Regions from separate parts of the Homo sapiens genome. Here all the other regions are linked to region 3. Evidence: fine-mapped expression QTL. A gene starts in region 3. Each other region holds a variant in brackets. All regions are shown on one strand. Distances are between the middles of the regions.

What was found.
Region 1: its variant is fine-mapped to the expression of PDGFRL in fibroblasts (GTEx, PIP above 0.99).
Region 2: its variant is fine-mapped to the expression of PDGFRL in aorta (GTEx, PIP above 0.99).
Region 4: its variant is fine-mapped to the expression of PDGFRL in aorta (GTEx, PIP above 0.99).

The regions. Positions count from the first base shown.
Region 1 is chr8:17,603,519-17,608,669 of GRCh38, forward strand. The region is part of intron 2 of PDGFRL (platelet derived growth factor receptor like); the gene reads left to right. It overlaps LOC107986919 (a long non-coding RNA gene), which reads right to left. Exons shown (of 2, transcript XR_001745819.2): 2 at 2,128-2,528. Among named protein-coding and RNA genes, the nearest start is that of PDGFRL, 29 kb to the left of the region's middle. The variant G/C (reference allele first, on the strand shown) is at 3,085.
Region 2 is chr8:17,505,700-17,510,850 of GRCh38, forward strand. All of the region lies in intron 2 of SLC7A2 (solute carrier family 7 member 2), which reads left to right. Among named protein-coding and RNA genes, the nearest start is that of SLC7A2, 11 kb to the left of the region's middle. The variant A/G (reference allele first, on the strand shown) is at 2,207.
Region 3 is chr8:17,574,967-17,580,117 of GRCh38, forward strand. PDGFRL (platelet derived growth factor receptor like) reads left to right here and starts at 2,250. Exons shown (of 6, transcript NM_001372073.1): 1 at 2,250-2,341. The coding sequence starts at 2,287. RefSeq lists silencers at 2,456-2,515, 2,606-2,655.
Region 4 is chr8:17,627,189-17,632,339 of GRCh38, forward strand. PDGFRL (platelet derived growth factor receptor like) reads left to right here. Exons shown (of 6, transcript NM_001372073.1): 4 at 1,299-1,592. Among named protein-coding and RNA genes, the nearest start is that of MIR548V, 52 kb to the right of the region's middle. The variant T/C (reference allele first, on the strand shown) is at 2,487.

The sequences.
Region 1 (5,151 bases), 29 kb after region 3:
ACATCTCCTGTCTTTGAGATCGGAAATAGCAAAGGTACTGTTTCTGACAACAGTAGTTATCATTTGTCGAACACTCTGTTTCTTGACTCCTCTGCCCTGTTCCTTTCTTCCCACTGTTTTATCATAAGCATCTACTATGTTTGTGGTCTCTGCTAGGCAGATGATGGAGATAAGATGGTGAGCAAAATAGATAAAATCTCTATATCCCATAGATCTTTTAATCTTAGGGAAGACAATTAAATAAGCAATTTTAATAAAATATTAAAGTCTGTTAGCAAGTGCCTTGCTAACCGAAGTATGCTGTCAAGGAGGAGGAAACTCAAGCTCATATTTGAAAGTTCCCTGGGTAAGGAAGGGCATAGCAAGATATAAGGAAATTCCAGAAAGAGAGAAGTGTTTGAAGGAAGTACCTAGAAGTGGGAAAGAGTATAAAACTTGGAGCATGAAGGGCAGGTGGGTAAGATGTGGCGGTCAGAGGCGAGGGAGTGGGAAGGAGGTTAGGAGGAGAGATGATGATGGGAGGTGAGGCAGACCATGGAGGGCCTTGTTGGCCACATTAAGAAATTTAGAGTGCTGGAGAGGATGTGGAGTAATAGGAACACTTTTACACTGTTGGTGGGACTGTAAACTAGTTCAACCATTGTGGAAGTCAGTGTGGCGATTCCTCAGGGATCTAGAACTAGAAATACCATTTGACCCAGCCATCCCATTACTGGGTATATACCCAAAGAGTTATAAATCATGCTGCTATAAAGACACATGCACACGTATGTTTATAGCGGCACTATTCACAATAGCAAAGACTTGGAACCAACCTAAATATCCAACAGCGATAGACTGGATTAAGAAAATGTGGCACATATACACCATGGAATACTATGCAGCCATGAAAAATGATGAGTTCATGTCCTTTGTAGGGACATGGATGAAGCTGGAAACCATCATTCTCAGCAAACTGTCGTAAGGACAAAAAACCAAACACTGCATGTTCTCACTCATAGGTAGGAATTGAACAACGAGAATGCATGGACACAGGAAGGGGAACTTCACATACCGGGGACTGTTGTGGGGTGGGGGGATGGGAGAGGGATAGCATTAGGAGATATACCTAATGCTAAATGACGAGTTAATGGGTGCAGCATACCAGCATGGCACATGTATACATATGTAACAAACCTGCACGTCATGCACATGTACTCTAAAACTTAAAGTATAATAATAATAAAATTTAAAAAAAATTTAGAGCAAAATTTAGGGCAATTATGAGTCGAGGATTTAAAGCCTTTCTAAATATGTATACAAAGAAAATGCATGGCTGGGCATGGTGGCTCACGCCTGTAATTCCAGCCCTTTGGGAGGCTGAGGCGGGTGAATCACTTGAGCTCAGGAGTTTGAGACCAGCTTGGGCAACATGGCAAGACCCCATCTCTACGAAAAAAGATACACAAATTAGCAGAGCATGGTGGCGTGTGCCTATAGTCGTAGCTACCTGGGAGGCTGAGGTGGGAGGATTGCTTGACTCTGGGAGGTGGAGGCTGCAGTGAGCTGAGATCATGCCACTGCGCTCCAGCTTGGGCAACAGAGTGAGACTCTGTCCCAGAAAGAATGAAAGAAGGGAGAGAGAGAGACAGGGAGAGGGAAGGAAGGAGGGAGAGAGACTGAAAGAAGATGCTGAGTAATATAAACCGCATTGTGAGGGTTAGCCGTCCTCATTGCCTTCAGAAGAAAGACAATGTCTCTTCCTGTGTCAGTTGCCTCCATCCTTCCTCCCCATGCCCCATACCCATTTCACTCCAACTGGGGTCTTTAGATGTGTTCTTGGACCTCATGCTTTTTTGCAATAATTTTTTAAATTTTTTCTTGCATTTTGTTGATAATATTAAAAACTTTGTGTAAGAATATTCTGGATTATCTGAATAACCCCTGCTGGGAGATCAACGTGACCCATTTGCATCTTCTCTGCACACATTTTGTTTCTTGAATCTCATCATAACACACTTCCAGGGTGTAAAGCCAGAGAATTCTTGGCACCGCGCTGAGCCAGGGAAGAAAATGAGATGAAACGGAGAATAAGTGGGTCTGGACGAAGGCTTAAATATAACCAATCAATGCTGGTAGGAACAAGGAGACGTTGGAGATTTCAGCTATGTTGTCAGCAACATCACAGCAGTAAAAACAAGATAGGCTGATGTGGTAATAAGCCCTGGTCCTGCTCCCTAGGAAATAAGAGTCCAGGCATTGTCTTTCAGGATGTTTTTCTGGTATCTGGTCGGATGTTAGCATTTTTTCAGTCAAAAACTGGGAGTTGGGAGGAGTGCGTGGGGCACAGGAGATCTCTTTGATGGCTGGCTCCTCGGAAAACAATAAATAGCTTTTAGAGAGAAGGGAGGGCATCGGGCTTTTCATTTGGCCACGGTTGGCAACAGCTTACTCCACCCACAGACAACACAAAGGGAGGGTGGGCCGATGGAGCAGAGAGTGGGCTCCCAGCCAGGCTCATCATGTCATCCAGCATCTGGAGGGAGAGTCTGGAAGACATTTTAAAAGAAAAGGAGAAATATCTTAAGTGGTTATCAACAGAAGAATCCCACCATTGAGAAAGAATCTGCACAGACTTTGGTAAATGTTGTGGAGAGTACTCTGGTGTTATGCTGAGTAAGGTATTTTTTTTCAAATAATTTATATTTTTCGAAAATACACAGAACGTACAATTTACCATATTAACCATTTTTAAGGAGATAGTTCAGTACACTTAAGTGCATTCATATCATTATGTGAGTGTCTTTTGTATGCGAACTCACTTTCCTCCAAAGCTCGTTTTATTTTATTTTCTGAGCAGAACAAATGAAGATGAGGAGGCTCTCACTTTGCCTTCATTCTTATCTGGAGCATGGGTCCAATTGGGGTCTAATTTGCAGTGGCCAGTCAAAAGGAAACGCCACCCCCAAACTCTAATACTTGCCTTCAAATGGTCTTCCACCCCAGAAATGACAAATAGGTGACCTAACCAATGCTGAAGGTAGAGCGTTCTCTTTCCAGACTCACTGGCACCAGCTGCAGGCCCTCCGTATTTCCCCAGAGATG[G/C]GTGGGTGGAGGCTGCAGGATACAAGACTTCCCCCAGTGTACTCAATGTTCTGAGAGCGTTCAGCTTGCAGAAAAACACAGCTATGTTCCGTTCAGGACAAGGGTGGGGGGCAGGTAATAATAGAACGAGGCTCATTGTGCTGTTCTCAGGATAGAATGAGGTCATGCGTGTAAACCTCTTGGCACACATAGTAAGCCACCTAAATATCGGTGAGCTATTTCTGTTCACCATACTGTACCCAAAGGAGGTAAATCATAAGAAACAGCCAGTTTTTCGTTTTTTGTTTTTTTGTTTTTTTTTTTTTTTTTTTGAGACGGAGTCTTGCTCTGTCACCCAGGCTGGAGTGCAGTGGTGCAATCTGGGCTCACTGCAACCTCCACCTCCCAGGTTCAAGCAATTCTCCTGCCTCAGGCTCCTGAGTAGCTGGGATTACAGGTGCATGCCACCATGCCCTGCTAATTTTTGTATTTTGATTGGAAATGGGGTTTCCTCATGTTGGCCAGGCTGGTCTCAAACTCCTGACCTCAAGTGATCCACCTGCCTTGGCCTGCGAGTTTCGTTTTAAGAAACGTTTTAGACGTGTGTCTCAATCCCCTACAAACTCTTTGTGTCCATAGCACTGTGGAGGGCTCACTGATGCTCATACTAATGGTCCCAAGGTTCTCTAGATCACCCATTGCTCGTCGATCTAGTCATTAGAGTAGGGGAAATTGGTTGAAGCACGTTCTATAGTTTTGGGGAAAACGTCTTCTGCTAACTCTTACTTAAAAATAATGTTTCTACCTACACCAAATATGTATTTAAAAAAACAACAAAAAAAGTTTCTTTCAACAAAACATTTCATTTCTTGAGCATTTCTGGTAAGTCTAGGATTGATTATCCCAGATGTGTTGCACAGAATTAAAATACAGTAAGAAAATGACAATACAGTCAAGCTAGTGCGTTAAACCAAAGACACTGTAGGAATATCACCAACTATGTTAGATGATAATTTTGGGGCATCTTGCAAGATGGAGCATTGTTTATAGTACCAGTGATTGCATGTATTTTATGAGTGAAATGTTGCTTTAACAAGTAAGTATACATGTGGGTGACGTCTGGGATTTAATGCTCAAATGTAAACACTGGTGTGTTAGTAGCATGATTTTTGGCCAAGTATTTGAATATAGAAGATGTAAATAAAACAGCTTTGAAAGATATGTCAAAGGAGGGAGCAAGAAAAGAGGAATAAAGGATAAGATGTAAAATGGGAAATTTTATGTCCACTAGTGTATAATTGTGTAGAATGGCACATTTATAAAAAAGCAAAACGAAGATGTCAGAGGTTTGCCTCCAGTGTCCGGGCTTGGCTGCCTTGGCGGCTCCGTCCCACCCACACAGCCGGCTGCAGGTGGGCAGCTGCTAAGTTGCTGCCCTGGGGAGTCCGCCCAGAACCTTCTCTTGTCACTTCCCGTCCTGCATTCCCAACTTGTCCACTCTGTCCTGGGGCCTCAGGGGCCTGTCTCCTGCCTCGCTTGGTGCCTTCCTGCTCAAAGACTTTGCTTGGATTGCCTTTGGGAGTTCATCCTGATTTGCCCCTGGTCTCTGCCTTTCAGACCACATCCTACTGTCCAAAGCACTCCTCTCTCTCCATCCCACTGCCTAGATCCCAGATGAGATCTGGTGTCTCAGTTACATTGGAGCAGAGGTCAGAAAGCACCAGCTCACCCTTCCCTGTAACAGCACTGTTGTTTGTGAACTTGACTTCATAGCTGGGAAAAGGTAGGGGGTTGGGGGCCCTGTGAGTCAACCAACATTGATACAAGTGAATCAATGTTGAACGTGCCCTCATGCGTTTATTTACCCAGGTGGCTCGTGCATTGGCACAATATATCACATCAGCTGGTAGGCATCCTGGGGAAGGAGGCAGAGGGAGGCACTGTCCCATACAAGAGCCGGAGGGGTGACCAGAGCGAGTGTGTCACAGCCTTCAGTTCAGTGTTGGTCTGCTGAGGAGAATGCACGCTAAATAGCATTAACGTTTGCTTAATGTATATATAAAGGCAGTCTACTAAGTCAGAATGCTT
Region 2 (5,151 bases), 69 kb before region 3:
AGTGCCCTCTTTTCTTATCTAAAATTGGAGCATCTTTAGTGTGACATTTGAAATCTAATCTTGCCAGTTCAATGTCAGTCTGATACGGATATTCTTGTAGAAATCTCTGAGATTTAATAAACTTACAGTTGAGTAGAACTGAATCATACTAAAGACCAGTGGAAGCATCCTTGCAGGGCCTTATCAGTTTTTACAATGTAAAATAACTAACCCATAGCGTTTCCTTTTACAGTTAATGTTTGTTTAATAACATGCTTAAGGTATAATATTGAGACGAAGTGAGGAATTTTAATGCTGATTTAGCTACTGAAAAATTATCTCTTGCAACACTTGCTTTACTTGTAGTTAGGATTTGTAATGTTTTATTGCAAAAGAAAGCCCTCTTTTAAATGCGTTGCATTTGTGGCATAGTGGTTGTGTAGGTGGAGTAGGACTTGTGTCTGTACAATTCATCAAGAACATAGCACAGAGCACTTTTACATGCCATTCAGAGACAATAGTGGGTGTTGATAAAATTTGTAGTACTAGAGCTGTGAAAACAAGTGCTGGGCTGGTGCCTGCTTTAAACTCTCTTGAAACTTAGCAGAATTTCATTTTTATAACAAAAATCACTATTTTCTTTAAAGAGGATTGATAACATGAATAAGTCTAGGTGTCCTGGAAATTCATTTGGTTATATCACTATAAAAATGGTGAGACACTGTTGTGGTAGTTGGTTTTGTATTTTAAAGCGTAAACTTCACAGTACATTTAAAACTGTCCTGTGCGAAATTTCAGAGGCTTTGGACACGTTCCTTTCTAGCCTCCCTCGCCGTGGACAGTTATCAAGTTTCTGGCACGGTGCTAGACGAATATGGAAGAGAAGTAAGTGCCTCAGAATGACATTTTAGAACGCTCTTTTTATAGGTTAAGAGACTGAGATCTTGAGAGGTGTAACTCATCTGAGGTTAGACAGCTAGGGATACAGTGAAGACTGGAGTCCAAGCATATTGAAAAGTCAGACCATTCTGTTTTTGTGAAAACAAATAATAATTACTAGAATGCACTACTTCTGTGGAATTTTTTTTTTTGAGACAGACTCTTGCTTTGTTGCCTGTCTGGAGTGCAGTGGCGCAATCTCGGCTCATGTGAGGTTAGACAGCTAGGGGTAGAGTGAAGACTAGAGTCCAAGCATGTTGAAAAATCAGACCATTCTGTTTTTGTGAAAACAAATAATAATTACTAGAATGCACTACTTATTTGTGGAATTTTTTTTTTTTTTTTTGAGGCAGACTCTCACTCTGTTGCCAGGCTGGAGTGCAATGGTGCAATCTTGGCTCACTGCAACCTCCACCTCCCAGGTTCAAGCGATTCCCCTGCCTCAGCCTCCCAGGTAGCTGGGACCATAGGCGGGCACCACCATGCCTGGCTAATTTTTTTTGTATTTTAGTAGAGATGGGGTTTTACTATGTTGGCCAGGATGGTCTTGATCTGCTGACCTTGTGATCCACCCGCTTCGGCCCCACAAAGTGCTGCGATTACAGGCGTGAGCCACTGTGTCTGGCCTATGTGGAATTTTTAAATTGGGGATCAGTACAATTACAACTTAACATTTTTAGATTTTAATGGTTAACTATAATTTATTATATAATTTTAAAAAGCTGGAAACTATTTAAATGTGTGTGTGTGTGTGCATTATTATTATTTTTGTGTGTGTGGAGACGGGGGTCTCACTGTGTTGCCCAGGCTGGTTTTGAACTCCTGGCCTCAAATGATCTTCTCGCCTTGGCCTCCCAAAGTGCAGGAATTATAGGCATAAGCCACTGTACCTGGCCTTTTTAAATTTTTTGAAGAAAGGATTTTGAACATCCACAATGCAAAGAGATGAAAAATATTTGAAGTGATGGATATGCAAATTACCCTTATTTGATCATTGCTTATAGTATATACATATTGAAATATTCTGTGTCCTATAAATATGTACAATTATTACATGTCAGTGAAAAAAGAAAAAATACAAATGAGTAAATTTTAAAAACTCTGTTAATTTAACAATAACATGTAATAGAAATATGCCCTAAAGATTTCATGATGAGCTATTAAATTATTTTTCAAAGAGATATTTGAAGCTGATGAAGTGCATTTAGAAATAAGTGTTACAGGAAGAGTGGAAAAGGAAGTTTTTAGATTTTGAAATTTCTTGGAAATTAATATATTTGGATAAGCT[A/G]TTTTCGTAGAGTGACATTCTTATGATATGAACAAGTTTATTAAATGGCATACTTTTACCAGAAAATGGGAAAATATAGTCTTAATCTAAAAATAAAAAGACTTTTAAAGTCATTAGGGTTTCAACCTCATAAATGGTGCTTTTAAACAAGTATGTTCTGTTTGGAGTGCTATTGTGCTCTCTTTTTTTTTAAAAAAAAAAGCTATTTGAATTTTTTACTTTTTCTGATTATCATAGATAACAGATGGTTTGCACTTAGTTCAGTGAACCAAACAAAAAAAGAGCAGACTTGGCAGAAAATTCCTGTTGATAGTGCATTTTTTCTCTACTGAAATGGATCACATGAACTTTTTGAATAATGAATAACATATTTACATTATTCTGGTCTTTTTTGCTACAGAGTACAAGAGAAATGTGAAGGACAAACAACCTTATTGTTACTCTTATAAATTATGTAAAATATTTTTGTATTCTTCCTGCATTGCTAACTCTAGGTATTGTTGGATGCCCTGTCTACTTTTAAAAATGATCAATTGAGCCGGGCACAGTGGCTCATGCCTGTAATCCCAGCACTTTGGGAGGCCAAGGCAGGCAGATCACCTGAGATCAGGAGTTCAAGACCAGCCTGGCCAACATGGCGAAACCACATCTCTACTAAAAATACAAAAATTAGCTGGGTGTGGTGGTGGGCACCTGTAATCCTATCTGCTCAGGAGGCTGCGGTATGAGAATCATTTGAACCTGGGAGATGGAGGTTACAGTGAGGCGAGACCACTCCAGCCTGCGAGACAGAGCAAGACTCTGTCTCAAAAAAAATAAAAATAAAAATAAACAAATAATAAAAAAGATAAATTGGTCAAGTGGCTGAAGATTGAAAGCCTGATTTATCTCACCGAACCACTAGTAATGGTAGTATGTTAATATATTAGTTTTTATAAGGATTTTAAAAACCCTGAGGACCCACATTATTTCTCTCAGTTTTTGAAGTATTTAGTAGAGTTGAATTTTTATTTTTAATTTTGTTTTACTTTCAGTTGATTGATCGTTGCCGCCTTTTGGTGGTGAGCTCCTGTGGCGTGTGTTGGTGAAAGTTGGAGATGCTGGTGGTGTAAGGCAGGCGAATGATATTACTAAAGTGGAGGCAGCTCTAGGAGTGGGGACTGTAGACATCAGCTGTAGTTGTTGGTACCAACTGTAATTGAAAGTTCGAGTCATCTGTTTAAAGAATGGGCCTTTCCTTCATCATGTCATTTTAATGCATTGCATATTGGACCAGAGAAATCAGTAAAGTTGAACTATATAATCTGAAATCTAACTTTGTATCCATGAATCAGAATTCAGGCTATTTTCAAGAATTGGAAGAAAAGTGCTCATTTTATTGAACTAAGTATAATTTCCTTATTCTTCTTCTTCTTCTTTTGAGACAGAGTTTCGCTCTGTCGCCCGTTGGAGTGCAGTGGTGTGATCTTGGCTCATTGCAACCTCCGCCTCCCTGGTTCAAGAGATTCTTCTGCCTCACCCTCCCAAGTAGCTGGGTTTACAGGTGCCCACCACCACACCTGGCTAATTTTTGTATTTTTAGTAGAGACAGGGTTTCATCGTGATGGCTAGGCTGGTCCCGAACTCCTGACCTCAAGTAATCCACCCGCCTTGGCCTCCCAAAGTGCTGGGAAGACAGGCGGGAGCCACCACGCCCAACAATTTCTTTATTATTATTAAGTACAATAAAAAGAGAAACAAGAGTGCAATCATTTTTATTTTTATTTTTTCGCCTCCAACAAAGTGATGTATGCAGAACAATGTTTTATGGTAGAGAAAAGTAATCTTTTTCCAGTGTTCATTTCACTAAAACAGCTACTGAAATTATTTGCTGAATGGAATCTTCCACGTCTCTAAAGACATGATATGCAGTATGAATAGCTTTAGTAAATCATGAAATTCTGGGTTCGGAAGAAGCCTGTGTGTTTCATTTCAAGCAGAACTGTATCTACCTATTTTTCATTGGTATGTGCATTATGTAAGAGTGAATTGAAGCCCGGTACAGTGGCTCACGCCTGTAACCCCAGCACTTTGGGAGGCCAAGGCAGGTGGATCACTTGAGATCAGGAGTTTGAGACCAGCCTGAACAACATGATGAAACCACGTCTCTACTAAACGTACGAAAATTAGCCGGGCGTGATAGCAGGCGACTGTAATCCCAGCTACTTGGGGGGCCAAGGCAGGAGCATCGCTTGAACCTGGGAGGCAGAGGTTGCAGTGAGCCAAGATAGCACCGCTGCACTCCAGCCTGGGTGACAGAGCAAGACTCTGTCTCAAAATAAACAAATAATAATAATAATAATAATAATAAAAGAGTGAGCTGGCCTTTTTTTGTGTACGAAAGTATCTGCAGAAACGTCAAAATTGCCTAACTGATAACATAAATGACAATACTTATGTATTTAAAAACAGTAAAATGTTGAGAATATCTATAACTAGGAAAAAAAGCTGTAGAATTGGCACACTGTCGTCCACAATGGCTGAACTAATTTACATTCCCACCAACAGTGTAAAAGCGTTCCTATTTCTCCACAGCCTTGCCAGCATCTATTGTTTCTTGACTTGTTAATAGTCACCATTCTGACTGGTGTGATATGGTATCTCATTGTGGTTTTGATTTGCATTTCTCTAATGATCAGTGATGTTGAGCTTTTTATCATATGTTTGTTGGCTGCATGAATGTCTTCCTTTGATAAGTGTCTGTTCATATCTTTTGCCCGCTTTTTGATGGAAGACAGTGTGGCCATTCCTCAAGGATCTAGAGCCAGAAATGAAATACCATTTGGCCCAGCAGTCCCATCATGGGGTATATACCCAAAGGAATAGAAATCATTCTACTAGGAAAACACATCCAAACCCATGTTTATTGCAGCACTGTTTACAATAGCAAAGACATGGAACCAACC
Region 3 (5,151 bases):
ACAGAGTGCGTGGTTTAAAGAACAGAAATGTATTCTCTTATAGTTCTGAATGGCAGAAATCTGAGAGCAAGGTGGCAGAAGAATGGGTATTCTCTGAGGCCTCTCTTCTTTGCTTTTATTTATTTATTTATTATTTATTTATTTTGAGACAGTCTCTCTCTGTCGCCCAGGCTGGAGTGCAGTGGTGCCATCTCAGCTCACTGCAACCTCGCTTCCCAGGCTCAAATGACTCTCTCGCCTCAGCCCCCCAAGAAGAGCCTCTAAGCGGCAAGAGAAAGAGGGACGACTCTCGGCTAAATGTAGCTGAGCCAGGGCAGTGAAGCTTGACAATAATGGCACAAGAGAGGTGGACCTGGCACATGCATAGTCAGCATGGAGGGGATACTGCGACCGAGAGGAGGAATCTAGACCCAACCCCAGGCTCCAACATGGAGTGAGAGTTAAGCAGTCAATTCATGGGGTCAGAATGAAAAGAAATCTCACGGTGGGGCAATTTAGGCAGATTTACTCTCTCCTGTGTGCATGCTCCAAGTCCTTTGCTCAGAATTCTCCCCAGAACCTGACACACCACATTGCAGTGGTCTAAATGCTTGTTCACTCCTTAAAAGTAGCCATGAGAGATGATGTCTCAACCTTCATAGCCGTAATGTTAATCACATAGCAAACTCCTGTTGAAATAATCACCTAGTTCCCTTTCTTAATAAACAAGAGATGCTAAAACCCAGAAGGTTAAGTGAATTCTGAGAGGCATGGAGAGTTTGTGCCAGTGTCAGCATCTGAACTCTGGTCTTTATTCCCAGCCAACTGCTCTCTGCATCGCAAGGCAAGCGAGTGGCAAAGCTCCGGCTAGAGCTGGCAACAGAATATAGAATTCTTGGTTCCTCCTGCAGAAGTGACTGAGAAGCATTAGTTTGTTATAAATGGCAGCACTTCTTTCGTTGGGTGTTGAGGGACAAGTCCCTTTCCTGTTATTTAGAATTGAGCTCCCTTTAATAGCAGTGCCTGGTGCTGAAGATTACAATGAGATGGGCTGCTTCTCACCGGGGGAACACACACAGGCATCTCCCCCGCTAGCAAACTGCTTTGATCATGAGAGTCTGCAAGCTCAGAAACGCAGGATGGCTCTCTGCAGAGGGACTTGTGAAAGCCCGTATCTTCTGCCCCACTGTTACCTGATAGAGTTGTCCAGGTTCTTGGCCTGTTGAACAAAAAATTGAACGAAATGCACGGAGTAACGAAAGAAAGAAGCAAGGAAAAACAAAGCAACAGAAGGGAGGAAGGAAAACGTAGATTTATAGAAGACAATTCACAGAGGGCGCTGCAGCAAGCCACAAGAGCCTGACGCTCCCCAGGGATTTTATAAAGCGAAAAGAACTTGGCAACACCCTTGGGTTCCCTTTAGAGGCCTCCAACTGGTTACACCTTACGAAGGACTGGCCTGCGACCAGTCCGAGGCTGAAGTGGAAACTTCTGCCTTGTTATCAGAGGAGCGAGGATGTGGCCTGTGTGCCGCCTAATCATGCCTAGAACTGTCTGCACCTGCTGATCTTTTGCTTCTGCGAACTGGCTGCACCTGCTGTTCTCCTGCTCATACCCTAGCCCGTGCTTACCCTAATTCCCTGTTCTCCTGCCTCACCACCAGAGGCCCGGGTTGTCTGCACAGTCTCATTTTCCACGTTATTCCTGTAATGAACCCGTCCTCCCACCCCCACCAGCAGTTACAGGGCTGGGTGCGGAGACCAACTCTGGCCAGACACAGAGGAGCAGCAAGAACCCGGGGCAACGGTCCTGTGAGTGAGTGCATGTGGGGGAGAGAAATGGAATGAACAGAAATAATTTAGGAAGCACTTTTTACAGAGCACTCAGGTTCTGCCTGAGGAGGTGGGGCGGGCGCTGGTAACATTTGGACAATCGTGGTTAAAAGTGACCCCATCAGCACCCGCTGATCCTTCTTGAACTTGATAACCTTGGTGAAAACGCCAAGCGTTGGAGAAATTCAAGGAATGGCTGTTGTAATGTACATTTCACGCTTAGCCTTTCCTCCCCGCGCTGGGAAGAAGTGCTGCGCACCGCGGCTCCGCCAGGGGGCAGGAGAAGTCACATTACACAGAGAACTAAAAAAAAAAAAAATTCCCCAACTTTTTCCCCCAAACCTTGTTCCTCCTGAAGAAACCGAATCCTCCCGCTTCGGCGTCCCAGGAGCCCGCCCCTCGCCCGCCGCCTCCCCTGCGTCCCCGCCCCGCGCAGCCGCCGCGCTCCTGCGCTCCGAGGTCCGAGGTTCCCGAGATGAAGGTCTGGCTGCTGCTTGGTCTTCTGCTGGTGCACGAAGCGCTGGAGGATGGTGAGTGACTCTGGGCGCGGGGCCACCTAGCTTGTGCCCTGACTTTAGCCGGGACCCGAAGCCCCCGCCGCCCTCCTGCCAGCTCTTGGTCTAACGTTCGGCCCTCGGTGGCTCAGCCCCCGCGCCACTGCCTGCCCGGTGCACCTGCCCCCTCCTGGTGGGGTCTCCTTTCCTCCCACTCTTTGCCTGCCCGGAGAGCCCTCTAGGGGTGGTGGCAGCTACCCCGACCCTTAGGAGCCCACCAGGACCTCTCCAAGTCCCCATCTCCGGGCGAACCAAGCATCCCCAGCCAGCGCCTGGTCCAGCCCCCAGTGTCAACGTGTCGGTCTGGGAGGTGGGGCGGGAGCCTCGGATCGCTTCCACCTCCCAGCGGCGTGGCTGGGACCTCTGCTGCTGAGAGCGAGTGCCACCTAAGCTCGGCAATCGCTGATTCGGTTGCAGAGTTCCAGGTGACCTCCCCCTCCCCTCGCAGTTCTGGGCGTGTTTTCGTCTACCACCTTTTGCTTGAATCCTGCAAGATCTGCCTAGATCTTCGAACAAAAATGTCAGTGTATGAAACTTCAAAACGAATCAAAAGCCCACGGCTTATTATATTTATCTAATTGGATGGGAAATGGTGAAGAAAATGCATTTTTTTGGTACAGCTTATGGGACCATGACCGCTGCGCGTTTTTGAATGTGTACCTGTCCTGGGTCCACCCTGTCGTGTACACCCGTGACCACAGGGTCTGGTGTTATTTTTCTGTGTGTCTGGGTGTGTGTATTACTGTGGTGTGTATTATATATTATTGTTAGCATTTAAATGTTTTGTTTGCTCTATTCACTCCATGGGTGTTATTTGTACAGTACATGTTTCATCTGGGTGCCTCCTGGTGTCCTCAACCCTCTCTTGAAATTCCTGGGCTACAACACAATTTTTGCTTAGATTTAGTGGAAAAGTAGCTTTTGCTGTTATGCAACTTCATGCTGGAGCCAGCTCGACCTGGCTCACATTTTTATCCACTCGTTCATCCTGACCAGTTCCTTTCTTTCCTAGGAAACTACATTTGCCAAAAAAATACCGCATTGTAGTTTGCAAAATCCAAGATAGTCGTGGTACTTGAAGTTGAGCATGAGGGTCCTTCAGCCTAGAGCTTTGCTTAATAAAACGTAGGCAGAGCTTCTACTGGGAGAGTAACACTTAACTCTGCCCAGAGAGAAGTTGCCATGAGTTCAGTTTGTAAAATGCAATATTAAAATGCTCCTGGCAGGCCCTTGTGTGCAACCGCTGAAAAGGCAGAAATGTAATTTGTAGTATCATTTTTTGAATAGGGCAGGAGATGGCCAGGCAAAATAATTTCAAATCAGCCATTCCTTTGTTTATACCCAACTTGCCAGTCTTAGAGGCTCAGAAATTGACTTCCATTCTGCCTCCTGGATCTCACCCAGCCCATGTGAGTTTATTACAAACATCTGACTAAATTTACCCTTTCTTTAAGTGTAATCCATACAAACAATAAGCATTTATGAGACAATTGGAGAAAGTGGAATACAGACTGAATGTAAGAAATAGTTCATAAATTTTAGGTGATAATAGCACGAAGATTTTGTTTATAAAAGTACACACATCTGGCCGGGCACAGTGGCTCATGCCTGTAATCCCAGCACTTTGGGAGGCCAAGGCAGGTGGATCACAAGGTCAGGAGTTCAAGACCAGCCTGGCCAAGATGGTGAAACCCCGTCTCTACTAAAAATATAAAAATTAGCCGGGCGTGGTGGTGGGCACGTGTAATCCCAGCTACTTGGGAGGGTGAGGCAGAGAACTGCTTGAACCTGGGAGGCAGAGGTTGCAGTGAGCCGAGATCGCACCACTGCACTCCAGCTGGGCGACAAAGTGAGACTCCATCTCAAGAAAATAAAGATAAAAATAAAAGCACACATATCTATAATGTATGGACTATTTATGGATACAATAGTGAACACACAGTGCTTCATTAAGTTATGTAACCGTTTGGCTAAACCTATTAAGAATGGTTTTTGGTTTTGAGTTGTGTTGTGAGTTGTGGCCAGGAGCTACTAAGGAGAGTGGATTACACAGGAGGCCCTTCCAGTGCTGGTCTCAGATTGGCAGGTTGGGAATATCCTGCCTTCAAGGCCATCCCAAAGCACAAATTACAGACACAAGGTCCATGACTCAACTTGTTTCACTGCCTTTTAGTTTTTCTGATCACATCTAAAAGACAGTCTTTATTATTATTTTATTATTATTGTTATTATTATTATTATTATTATTATTATTGAGATGGAGTCTTGCTATGTCACCCAGGTGGAGTGCAGTGGCACAATCTTAGCTCACTGCGACTTCCACTTGTGCTAGCCACCACAACTAGCCAAAGACAGCCTTCTAAGAGGAAAAGACTTCCCTGCAAGTGTGTATGGGGGTGAACATCTGGCCTGTGACCCAATGAAGCTGGCTGCTCCCAATGACAAAATGCTTTAAATTTTTGGAAGTAATGTTCTTTCTCCTCATGAAGATGGGGAGCTGGAAAGGCACATAATACTTCATGGCATGAAACTGAGGGATGAAAACAGGTAATAAATAATCCAAGATTCCACGTTGAGATGTCAATCATAGCACCTGATTTTCAGCATTTATATGGAATACATGCCACCGAGTTTATTAATAGGGTGCTTCTATTTTCACATTGAAAAGTATAAAATCACAAATATTTCCTGACTTTTGATTACCTACATATTTTTATTGAATGTCAGGAGCAAACACTGAAGTGTTAATATTGATTTGTGCAACGAGTTCTGTTGAATAACATGAG
Region 4 (5,151 bases), 52 kb after region 3:
TCAAGGTTTTACAACTGCTAAGGGTTTAAAACTTACAATCATAAAATCACATTAGTAAGTGCTTTCCTAAATATTGAGTTTGCTGTAATTTGGATGTAGTTTACAGCTTATTAGCTTGATTTTTTGTGGAAATCTAAAATCCAATGTGCTTGTCTACTTTAAGTAATACGTGTGTCATCTACATGAGTGGATGTAAATACATTTTCAGGGGACATATGTAATCTATAATTATTCAAATGAGCTTTAACACATTTTTTTGTTGATGGAAGCTACCGATTGCAATTTTTTTTTTTTTTGAGACGCAATCTTGCTCTGTTGCCCAGGCTGGAGTGCAGTGGCATGATCTCAGCTCACAGCAACCTCTGCTGCCTCCTGGGTTCAAGCAATTCTCATGCTTCAGCCTCCCATGTAGCTGGGACTACAGGCGCGCACCACCACACTCAGCTAATTTTTTTTTTTTTATTTTTAGTTGAGACGGGGTTTCACCATGTTGCCCAGGCTGGTCTTGAACTCCTGAGCTCAGGAGATCCACCCGCCTCGGCCTCCCAAAGTGCTAGGATTACAGGCATGAGCCACCACGCCTGGCCAGATTGCAAATATATTTTTAAAGCAACTAGTGTGGTCACTTACTTCAAACTATATATTATAGTATAAGAAGTAAGGCTGGGCATGTTAAACTTTAACTTGTTAAAGGTTAATATGTTAAATCTTAATTTAAATCTTGTTCCTTGCTTCCTCATGGTGGTGATCCATGGGCGTCATCTGGGCTTGTACTGATACCTTTTCTGTTTTCTTTCTTTCTTTTTTTTTTTTTTTTTTTTTTGAGACGGAGTCTGGCTCTGTCGCCCAGGCTGGAGTGCAGTGGCGCTATCTCGGCTCACTGCAAGCTCCGCCTCCCGGGTTCACGCCATTTTCCTGCCTCAGCCTCCCGAGTAGCTGGGACTACAGGCGCCCGCCACCATGCCCGGCTCATTTTTTGTTTTTTTTAGTACAGATGGGGTTTCACCGTGTTAGCCAGGATGGTCTCGATCTCCTGACCTCGTGATCTGCCCGCCTCAGCCTCCCAAAGTGCTGGGATTACAGGTGTGAGCTACCGCGCCCAGCCTTCTGTTTTCTTTAAGGAGACAGGAAGTTAAATCATTCTTCCAAAAAATGAAAAGCATTAAAGTAAAAAAAGAAAACCCGGCCTTTCCTACTCCTAAGGACTCAGTATTCAGAGTATGCTGCCAAAATCCTTAAGGGTGCTTTTACTTTGCGTCTCCGGAGTGAATAAGCCTGTGTCTTCCTTCCCTTTGCAGAGAAAGGAGAACTCTTTGTACCTTCTCCCAGCTACTTCGATGTTGTCTACTTGAACCCGGACAGACAGGCTGTGGTTCCTTGTCGGGTGACCGTGCTGTCGGCCAAAGTCACGCTCCACAGGGAATTCCCAGCCAAGGAGATCCCAGCCAATGGAACGGACATTGTTTATGACATGAAGCGGGGCTTTGTGTATCTGCAACCTCATTCCGAGCACCAGGGTGTGGTTTACTGCAGGGCGGAGGCCGGGGGCAGATCTCAGATCTCCGTCAAGTACCAGCTGCTCTATGTGGCGGGTAAGCCTGGCCACCCCTGCCTAGATTCTAGTTAGTCCCCTGGTCAGTTTCAGGTACTGCTGTTCCCTGCCTGCAGATGGAATAAGGAAGCTCCATGAGTGCCTTTTGTTTCATTGTTGTTGGGTTGTTGTTGTTTTTTTTTCTCTTTTTTCTTGAGACAGGGTCCCGTTTTGTTGCCCAGGCTGGAATGCAGTGGCACAACCATTTTCTCACTGCAGCATTAAAGCCCTGGGCTCAAGCAACCCTCCCTCCTTAGCCTCCTGAGTAGCTGGAACCACAGGTATGAGCCACCATGCCCTGCTAACTTTTTTTTTTTTTTTTTTTTGTCTCATAGAGAAGAGGTCTCCCTACCTTGCCTGGGCTGGTCTCGACCTCCTGGGCTTAAACAATCCTTTGATCTTAGCTTCCCAGAGTGCCGAGATTACAAGTGTGAGCCACCATGCTCGGCCCACTTATGCCGTTCTTAAAGGCTTCCCTTCTGCCCCACCACTTCTAGGATGGATGTTCTCCTTCCTTGTTATGACCCTGACCGAAAACCCCTCTTCTCCATTCCAGCCAAATCCTTCCATCGTTCACTCTGGTGCTGCCTCTGTGTTGGATCAGGTCTTCTATGTCCCCAAACTCCTTTAGAGCATCCTCCCAGCCTCTTGGTCTAAACCCAAATCTGCTGTCTCCTAAGGACATCATTCATTCCCACGTCAAGGCTGGCATCCTTCTTGTACCCATTGCCACCTGCCAACCCTCATTCTCTGCCCTTCTGTTGGGAACCTCTGCTCTTTGGGGGCTCTACCAGCATTCTCATTTCCTTTCCTGTCACTCCCATGCATTCATCGAACATTTTGGCACTTGGTTCATGGCCCTGCTTGTCACTCCATTTTTAGGGTGACTTTGATA[T/C]CGACTTGGTACCCACTGGCCAGGTTCATGGACCCCTCATCCGTTCCACCTCAGATATTCCCACCCTCATCACAATGTGAACATGTCAACCACAACCACTGTGACAGCAACCACCGGGGCTGACCCCAGCTCCAGTGACACAGGCTTGTACTTTCCCAGGATTCTGTGTTCAATGACTCCCTCAGCCACAGTCCTCACCTGCACCCACCCTGTTCTTGAGGGCTTTCTGCCCTCCCCACCCATGAGGCTTAGATCCTGGGTCCCACCACATCAGTACTCACTACCCACACCCGGCACGCCCTCCTCTCTGTACTCCCCTCTCCTGTCCAGGAAAGAACCACCCCGGATGAACACAACTAACCTTCTCCCCATGCCTGTACTCAGAGAGTTAAGAGCTGTTGGGACACTCCCATGGGAGGGTAGAGGGCATGGCCATGAATCCCCCATCTCTCGTCTACCCTGCCTGGTGTCCTCTGCATTTTGTCCCGTCTTTCTTCTGTTTTCCCCAATGTGCACAGAACACTTGGAGTTCTCAAATTCCCGCCTCATTCTCTTCCAGTTGGCCTTACTCCCTTACTCTTGACAGAACTGAAACATGATCAGTCTCTCAATTAAAATTGGAACTACTTCTTTCAATGTGGCCATTTTAGTGAGGAGTTTCATTTCATAGCATTTATACATGAAATACTTTTTTCCCTGGTAACTGCCATCCGTTCCATTGTGTTGAATCCCCCTTTTCCTGAGGGTAGGGAGATCTGTTGGTCATGTCGAGTTTCCCTTTGATATCCAACAGGCTTGCTGGGTGAGTAAGACAGCCTCATTCTGGTTTCTAAGACTGTTTGTTTAAAATCTTCAGTCCCAACAATTCATCCAAGCCTGCTTTCTGCTCTTCCTGTCACATGCAGGCTCCATGGTGAGTGCAGCAGCTCTGAGTCGGAGGCCACAGTTCCCTCCGCTCCCCTCCCCTCCCCTCCCCTCCCTGCTGGGGCACCAGGTTAGGGGAAGTAAGTGAGAGAGGTCAGAGGAAGTAAGTGAGAGCTGGCAGTCCCTGGTAATAAATGCTGACCTGGCTTGTTGTCTGTTAGCCTGATGGGAACAGATAGTGACTCCAGTGGTTTGTCACAGGTGATAGGGACTCACCTGTCACAAGCCCCCTTGGTGTCCTAGGCCCTGTCCCATGCAGCCTCGCCTTCTCCTGGACCCTCAGCTGGAGGCTGCCTCTGCTTGTATGAACTTCTTTGCTCTGAGCTGCAGCATGGCTGAAAGAGCCTGGAGTCCTGACATCTCTGTGTCTACCTGATCACCTGACTCCAGAGCACGTGGCCACCAGAACATACAGTGGAGACACAGTCTGGGCCCTCTTTACTTCTCGAAGTCCCCCACCCTGCCATCTTGTCCAGAGCTCTTTTGCCCCGGGCTGATGGCATAGGGGCAGGCTAGGAGCAGTTGCGTTGCAGAACGCTGCAACACCCCCCACATTCCTTGGCAAGCAGTTCTCTGAGGCCGCTCCCTCGCCTTTCTGGAGTGAAGCACCCTCTTGCCAGCCTTGCAAGGGAGGAGGGGAAATAGTTTCTCTTCTGGCACTGTAGTCCCTCAAAGGTGACTTTAGTCTCTCCGAGAACTCTCACCTTGACCAGGGGAGAGTGGTACGTGTGGGCAGAGTCCATCCCCTGCAGTGGAGCTTCTCAGCCACCCTGTCGGGGGGATCAGTAGCCCCGAGAGTGAGCTGCTCTCTGAAGTTAGAATTTGGGTTCTGTCATGCCTCGTGTTCTCAGCCATGGTGCTTATTCAGCAGGCCATGCCCCTTACACCCTGTTACCAAATCCCTCTCACAGCCCTGCTCCACCTCCCCCAGTGTTTTGCTGAGCCCACCACTCTTCCCCACTAGAACCAAGTCCCTGAATGAAAGAGCTCTCCATGTCCCTCTCCACTTCCTTTCCTCCCACACACTCCTTTGCCCACTCCCATCTGGCCTTCTCCCTTGACTTCCACCAAAACGGCTATTGCCAAGGTACTCGGGGACCCCCATGCCATTAAAGTCTGTCCCTGTCCTCCTGGATTCCACCTCACCTGCAGGGAACAGCCTCTGCCCTGGCTCCATTTTTCCCAGCTTCCCCCACCTCCCCCACAGCTTTCTCACTCTTCTTGGTCAGCTCTTAGCCTTCTATCAACTTTGAAATGCTGGTGCTCCCCCAGGCACCCTTCTTTCCCACTCCTTGTTCTGTCCCTGGGCCAGCTTCACATCTGTACACTGGTAACTCCCAAGTGAACGGAAGTGGCCGGATCTAGGAGCATCAGGTCCACGTGTCCGCCGTCCACCTCAGGTGTGCAATGAGATGCTTCGGGGTCCTCCATCCTCCGCGTGCCATCCCTGGCCTCAGTGCCATCCTCCCTGGACCTGGTTCTTCCTCCTCCTCTGCCTTGGTGATGGCACTACCTTCACCCACGGGTCAGGCCTGCGGCTGGAAGCCAAGCTAACCTCCCTCCTCCTCCCGATCCTTTCTACTTTTTTCATTAAATCACTTTCAAATCCTACTGTTTCTCTCCATCCTCACTGCAAAAAAGGGATCAAGCTAGCATTGTCTCTGCCCTAGACTTATGTGAATACCTTCTCATTTCCCCTATGTCCACCTTTTCTTTCTCCACTCCATTTTCCACACTGTAG